Linked DNA regions of Homo sapiens. The protein of the gene in region 2 purifies or fractionates together with the protein of the main gene of each other region. This does not show direct contact. Each region holds a gene or a part of one and is shown on either strand. Other genes may lie near its edges.

Region 1 (3,832 bases), on a different chromosome or scaffold from region 2:
AATAAAGTGGGAGAAATGCAGAAAATAATCTTATTTTATAAATGTAGTTTTCAAAATCATATGAAGTCACTGGAAAAATATGGTGAGGTAAATACTGAAATATATCCTTTTCTCAAAGGGAGGATAATGTCACACATGCAGGGCACTTTTACAAATAAAAGTCACTGCATTAGCAGCACCTTCCTTTTAGCACAAGGGTCAGCAAATAAGCACCTGTGGGCCAAATCCAGCCCACTGCCCGTTTTTGTAAGTCAAGTATCTTGGAACACAGCCATGCTTATTCACTTTACAGTCCATAGTGTCAGTTAGCTGGGTGTGATGTTGCACACCCGTGGTCTCAGCTAGTAGAGACTGAGGTCAGAGGATCACTAGAGCCCAGAAAGTCGAGGCTGCAGTCAGCCATGATCACACAACTGCACTCCAGCCTGGGAAACAGAGTGAGACCCTGTCTCAAGAAAATCAATATATGTAGTCCACAAAGCCTAAAATATTTACTAACTAGCTCTTTGCAGAAAAAGCTGGCCAACTCCTGGTTTAGTAGATCAAAGATTCTTTGATGTATTTTAATAAAAGTTTTACCAAATATACTGAAATGTTTATATTAAATATAGATCCCCATGTACAATCGCTTGGCAATATTCAGATTGAGGGTCCAATATTTCAGCACTCAGGCACTGACAACAAAAATTTAGTAACTAGCAATCTTGTTGCTAACAAGGTACAGTGTCAATGTAGCATGTAGCTTCCATTTGCAACACAGCAGATATTACAAGAAATTTAACAAGAACTCTTAAGATGTGTCATCAAACTAAACGCTTTAAATACATTTTAATTGTGAAATAATCAGTATACCCTACATCTAACCTCATTTTTTAAAAATGGTTGCATAATACATTATTTTGGGGATATGGAAATTGAGCTATTTCCTATTGATAAGGAATTAGACTAGCTCCAAATTTTTTACATAATACTATAATAAATGTCCTTATACATAAGTATACATATAACATATCTATACAAATATCCTTTACATGTATTATATATGCTTACTGTTATATATGTGTGTGTGAATATGCTACTCAATTAATGTTCAAAATGTATTTACCAACAGTATATGAAATGTCTTTTTCAATGAAACCATTTCCCCTGCAGCAACACGGATGGAGCTGGAGGCCATTATCCTAAGAAAACTCATGCAGGAACAGAAAATCAAATGCCACATATTCTTACTCATTAGTGGGAACTAAACATGAGAACTCATGGACACAAAGAGGAGAATAACATACACTGGGGCCTACTTGAGGGAGGAGCATGGCAGGAGGGAGACGACCAAAAAACTACCTTTCGAGTATTTTGTTTACTATGTGGCTGGTGAAATAATCTGTACCCCAAGCCTCCATGATACAGTTTACCTATATAATAAACCTGCACACGTACCCCGAAGCTAAAATAAAAGTTCACTGAAAAGAGAAGAAAATGTCTTTTCCCTCACATTTGCCAATACTGGTTATTTTTCAAATAAATTAATGACTGGAAAAAAAACGGTAACTGATTGTTTGCTGATTTTCATTTTTCTGATTAACAGGCAAGGCTCAATATCCTAATAAAAGTATAAAATTTGTTCATCATGAATATTAGCTCAAATTAGGATTAGTTTGGCAGCACAAAGTTACCTCCTGTTCAATGTTGCCATAGGCTTACCTGTGATACTCTTCATTCTCAGTGTCAGGAAATTGCTGGCTTTCAGGTGTTCTGCTCTTCCTTGGAGGAATTAATCCATCATCACCATTGCCAGCAGTGGCACCATTAGTCAGGTTTTCTGGGAATCCGACATGAGTACTTCTGTGCTTCTTCATTTCTTCGATAGCCATAAAATTTTCTAGCTGGAAAATACAGAGAATAAGAAATTATCTACTTTAGGCACATTATCTATTGATAATCAGACTAAAACCAAGAAAGATAAAATAATTGGTCTAAAGCTCCTAAAGTGGCATTACCTAGCATTTTATGGCACCATTCGGGATTATTCCATAATAATGAAAGAATAGCTCTAGGGTTTGCACCTCTTCAAAATTCAATGTACAGAATTCTGAGTTAACTATTTAATTTTTCACTGATGATTTATGCTACTTACATGATAGGATCATGTATGCCTACATTTACTACACTTTGTTAAACAACATAATGTAAAAATCTAATTCAACACAAACGTTTGAATATAAAGGTATACCTCTCTATCACCATCCTTATTTATTTCTGGTTCTTGAGATCTTTTCTGCAGATGTAAAAACAGAAGGTTAATTTGCTTGTTGTATTTCTGTGACATTTCCTCTTTTGGAGTGCATGTTTTTAAAATAATTTTATTCTGAAGTAATCAAGTATGGACAATAAAAATTAGAAAGTAATTAAAATTAAACTGTTAAAATAAATAATAATTAAAATTAAGAATTAACTTTTTAATCTATGTTTAGCTACTGCCACATCACTGGCTTCTAACATGTGAAAAATAATTCACCTTAGACAAAGGGAGAAGAAAAACATGAACCAGCAAACTTAACTTTCTCACTATTTGTTTGGACTAAATTTAATTTGTTATGTGTTAAATCTACCAAAAATGAATCAGCAGATGATTTGTAGTGTTCCAAAATCTTCCTCACTTGAAAAGAGTTTACCTCATGAAACCCTAACTAGTGAGCACCTACAGTGCACTGAAGTGCTTTTTTAAAAGATTCCTAACTGGATTGTAGGCACCCTTTAAACTATTAGGAGCCGAAATCAACACCAAACAGAAAGAAATGCAAATTCTCACATTTTAATTGAAATTATATACTGTCATATGATAGTGTTATGTATCCAGATTATCTGCGTAAGTCCAGTTCTAATATATTCTAATGTGTACTAATGACAGCAGATAAAATTTTTTAATCTCTACTGATTTTCTGCAACTGAAATAAATTAGAATGTTATTGTGTTTGTGCACTAACACCAAAGGTCCCATTCTGCAAGATATGGTTCTTGTAATAGGCAGTTGGGTTGCTTTTATGACCTGGTTCCCTCCCTGAACAGAAACACTGAGGTCAACGAGAGACCACAAGGCAGGATATGTCCTTAACCTTGGTATCAGTGACTGACAATATAAAACTGTGGATTTTCAATCACAGGCCATGATTACTCTTTAACCATGAATCCAGCTCAGGGAATCAGTGTTACATTGTTCATAATTCCTATTGCTTAATAATATGATTCAATCATTGATGTTACTTTCTTTATCATGTTAGGGTGTTGTAAAAATAAAAGAACAAACAAAGTTCTGAAATTTGTTTTTGCCTCTATTCCAAAAGGAGAGATTAGCTATAAGCTAATCAAGAAGGCAGATAAGAATATTTTAAAATAAGAGTATTTTAAATTTTATAGTGGGTTATGTTGAAGTTAAATATCAAATATTAAATTAGAATCTATTGATTCTTCTGTTAATAAGGTTGCTGATTTTATTACAATAAATTTTAAGAATCTATTAAAATTTTTTTTTTTTTTTTTTTCACATGGAGTCTCGCTCTGTCACCCAGGCTGGAGTGTAGTGGTGGATGTCGGCTCACTGCAAGCTCCCTCTCCTGGGTTCATGCCATTCTCCTGCCTCAGCCTCCCGAGTAGCTGGGACTACAGGCACCCACCACCACGCCCAGCTAAGTTTTTGTATTTTTACTAGAGACGGGGTTTCACCATGTTAGCCAGGATGGTCTCGATCTCCAGACCTCGTGATCCACCTGCCTCAGCCTCTCAAAGTGCTGGGATTACAGGCGTGAGCCACCTTGCCTGGCCAAAAGATTCTTAA
Region 2 (4,437 bases):
ATCTAGATTCTTAATCATTCCCTAAAAACAAAACCTGAGGACTTGAGAACTGTCCTGACCACTTTATCTGCTTTCCCTTTTTGTCTGCCTCTCCCCGCCATTCTTTTACCTATTTCTGCATATTGTTCAGCTCTCATCTTACTAATCCATGACTCCAGGATACTTTCTATTATCTCCACTGATGCTTTCTTGATATTGGGTTTTTCCTTGAGATAATAGTTTTTTAAAACATTTTCATTAGTTACTTTTCTATATTTCAAAGTAGAATGTAAGGTATGTGCAGACGGAAACTGTCTATTTTTTTTCTCTGAAATTTCTGCACTTACTTGTGTTTTGTGCTAATCCCTTTATAAATATTCTTTGAATGAATGACAAATACCTCCTTAGGTGTTGCATAATCAAGACTTTAATCAACCCTATTTTCAAAGTCTCCTTACTATTCCTCTCTATTTGTAATATGCATAAAACTCACATACATGTGATGGTATTAACATATACATGAGTTTCTATTTGGTATCTGCTTTACACCACCTACTTCCCATCTTTCTTTCAGTGTAAGTCAAACATTTTGAATGAAGGCTATAGACTCATTTCTACTGAAACTTCGAAGCCAACAAAATAAAACCAACGAAAGTATGTTTACCTTAGGTAGGGGTTTGGCAGGTTTGCAGTGGAGTCCTCCAACAAAATCAATGTTTGGTAAGAATGGATGAGGAAATTGAAAACTCCAGGAGTTTCGCATAAGCCATATGTCAGCTTTCCCCATTGTCTCAAATAAGGTAGTGGGTCTTCCTGACAGGAATAAAGAAAAGAAAAAGTGGATGATGTAAGATAATTACTTTACATAACTTTCTGAAAGGGGTTAGAATTATGTAGGCAAAGATGTAGGTAAAGTTTGTGTGCTTTGAAAAATATATACATATATTCATGTATATGAATAATATATTTTTATGTATTATATATTTTGTCCATGTTTATTTATAAGAAAGGCAAAGTGGTGGGAGAATTATGAAGTTAAGCGACATCTCTAATGTCAAGTCAGTGTACTCACAATTATTAAAATAAGTCATAGAAAATTAAACATCAATTTATTTTCTCTTTAAAGCTTCAATAGTTGCATATAGATATTTAAACAACTCTTTGAGCTCCATAATCAATTAATTCTACTGTACCCATAAAACCAATTTTCTAACAGTCCAGTTTACACAACTCCTTAAGCTAATCCTTTTATCTTTGGTTCTTCAAGTGAACTCGGACTATTTTGAGAGTATGGCAGAAATCCTTGTACCAACTACTCATTTGGATTTGAGCTAAGATCTTAATAATATTATCATTTAAGTAAATATATTTGTAAATTATAGCTAGAAATTTTTGAGAAATTATTGAAATAGAGATCTGTACTCAACCTTAATCTGTCTCATATTTTTAAATAAAGAGACATAGTTTCAAATAAACTATATAGATATAACAACCTTCACACTTCAACAAGATAATTGGACTTTAAATGAATGAATTCCAATTCTTTAGTGAAGGAGTATAGAAACATTAGAAACTTCAAATTACCCTGATTAACTTTTGCATCTGAGATGTGGACATTATCTCTCTCTACTGTGAAGGAAACCTTCTGGAAACATGGGAATATCTTTTAATACCTAAAAAAGAAAACTGAGGTTTACAAGGAAAACTTTCTGCAGTTATATAGATAGTTGTAGAAAAATGTGTAATTACTCATTCTAAATCTATGCATTCAGTAAGATGTTACTTGATGGATTTCACTGTTTTTAAGATCTAAAACATTATATAGTAAAACAGATGTGTAATTGCTTAAAGTCTTAGGTGTACTAATATATAGGTTTATGATTTCCTGGGGTGTTCTGTATGAGTGATGGCCACAGGGTTTTAACAGACCTTATAATTTAAGCTTTTCTATAATGTTTGTGAGATTGATAGATCATCTTGTATTTTCATTTCATAAATTCACTTACCAAAAACTCCACTTCCCTGACTTTATGGCTTTATATAAGCTCTGCTTCAAAGACACAAATAAGTTAGATCTTCAAGTTCCCGATTAAACAAATTCTTACCTAAAACTTCACTGTAAAACTGATCCCACTTCTTCATATCACACATTTGGAACCAAAAGTCAAAATAAAGCACATAGATCATGTTTTTTACCCTCTCCATGAAAGTCATTTGATCACTTAATTTTGACATAACAACAGGTATGTAGGAAGGAGGGAAAATCAGTCCTCCACTGTGCCTTTCAATTGTGTAGCCAGGAGTGAAGCAGAGACTGTACACAAACGGTATGTTAAGTAGCGCAGCCAGCAGCTCACCACAAGGAAAAAAAGCATCTGCAAAAATGATGTCAAATCTTGACTCTTGTAGTTTTTTCATAACTTTCTTATTTGAAACTACATCTTTACAGAAGTTTCTAAATATGTCATGAAATTCCCACAGGATTTCTTGTTCTTGTGAAAAATATAACCAAAAGCTATCTTTTTGAATGTCTGACCATCTCTTAACCTGTTGCATGATGATATTCTCAAATTCAGTTTTAGTTAAAGATGTAGGATAAACTTCGAGTTTAAGAGTGAATGCGTCATTGGGATCAAAAAGAATGGAAGCTGAAGATGCCAGTACAGTCACCTCATGACCTCTCTGAACAAGCTCTTTCAGGATTGTCTTCATATTCATCCAATGGCTGTATTCACCGGTCCACACCAGCACCTTTCCACAACTCCCAGAGCTAAAGTAACAACCGAGATGTATCAGCAGAAGAACTGAAGTCCACTTCAGAGCCATCCTGGTGCAATGCAATCATTCTTTTCAAGTCACTGTTTCTTTCTCATACTTATATACAGAGATAAATCAATCAAGTTAAAACATAACTCCTTCAATCCAAAGTAAATATATTATAGGAGCATCCTGAGTACATGGATGACAAGGAGACAAAGTTTGATTACTTCATATTTACTCAAGGATGTTTGATGTTTCTTTTATGTTTATATTCGCTGTCATCCACCTAAGATTAATGACCTTGCAAGTACCCTGTTTTATGTAACCTATTTTATAATAGTGTCAAGAATAGTGGCAAGTGAGAGAGTCCTGCAGGGCCCTTGACACAGAGTAAGAGATGAAGTGATCGTACAATGCAAATAGCGTTTTTGAATATCGTGGTTCAAGGAATATCTTGTAAAACTTTGTTGAAGTATAATTCAAATACCATATGATTCATCAATTAGTATTTAAAATTAAGTATTTCCTTGTAAATTCACAGACTTGTGCATCCAACATAACAATCAGTTTTATCTAAAAAAACAAAAAACTCCTGTGTATTAGCTCTCATCTCCCCACCAAATTTCTGCACCCGCCCTGCACTGGGCAACCAGTAATCTAATTTCTGCCTCTAGAAATACACCTATTCAGGCTCTTTCTAAAAGTAAATGGAACGATATAATATGTGGTCTTTTGTGGCTGGCTTCCTTTACTTAGTTTAATGTTTTTAAAGGACCATCCATAGAATAGTGTAAATAAGGACTTCATTTTTATTGCCAAATAGTTATCAGATGCTATTTATAAACACAATTTATTTATTCATTTAATAGTTGATGGATACTGATTTACTTCCACTTTTGGTCATTATGAATAGCATTGTTTAACATTGATGTGCATGATTTCTGTGGACATGTTTTTATTTTTCTTGGGGATATGCCTAGAAAGGCAATTACTGAATTATGTGGTAAATGTAAGTGTAATCTTTTGAGGAATTGCTAGACTTTTTCAGAGTGGGTGAATAATTTTCTATTCTCACCAACAATGTATGAGGGTTTCAATGTCTCCACAACCTTGCCCACCCTTGTCTTTCACATAACCAAAAAGGTTATTTTTTACTTCAATTTATAAACACACTCTAACAGACCCCAAAAAGGAAGGTTTCCTTCCACATATTGGAGGGAAAAGTGAATAAATTAAGTACTAACTTACCTAATACTTCACTGTACAACTGATCCCACTTCTTTCTGTTAAAAATCTCAAATGCAAAGTCAAAATGAAGAAAATGCAACAGATTTTTCACCTTTCTACAAATGTATATTGGTACTAAGTTCTGATATGACAACAGTTACATCAGAAGGAGGTAATGTAAGTCCTCCACAGAGTTCTTGGTACATACTGCCAGTTGTAAATTGATGATTGTAGACCAAATGTATAACAAATGTTTAACAGATTAAGGTGTTCAGATAGCAGCTCACTACTGAGAACTTACATTTGCAAGAATGATATAAATTCTGGAATCTTGTTGTTCCTCATAATTTTCTTGTTCAAAACAGCATACTCACAGAGCTTTTGAACAGTATCAGAACATTCATGATATGTAGTTTTTGCATCTTTGAATCATATGTCAACAATGTACTCTTTGGAAACTTATATGTCCAC

The links.
Region 1: the proteins of UGT2B28 (region 2) and POTEF purify together in Homo sapiens (affinity purification with mass spectrometry; one large-scale study listed by BioGRID and IntAct). This does not show direct contact.

Annotation. Positions count from the first base shown.
Region 1 is NC_000002.12:130,084,113-130,087,944, forward strand, and holds part of POTEF (POTE ankyrin domain family member F), read right to left. Parts: intron 2,276-3,832; coding exon 2,231-2,275; intron 1,884-2,230; coding exon 1,702-1,883; intron 1-1,701.
Region 2 is NC_000004.12:69,278,869-69,283,305, reverse strand, and holds the start of UGT2B28 (UDP-glucuronosyltransferase 2B28 isoform 1 precursor), read right to left. Parts: upstream 2,832-4,437; 5' UTR 2,806-2,831; coding exon 2,085-2,805; intron 793-2,084; coding exon 644-792; intron 1-643.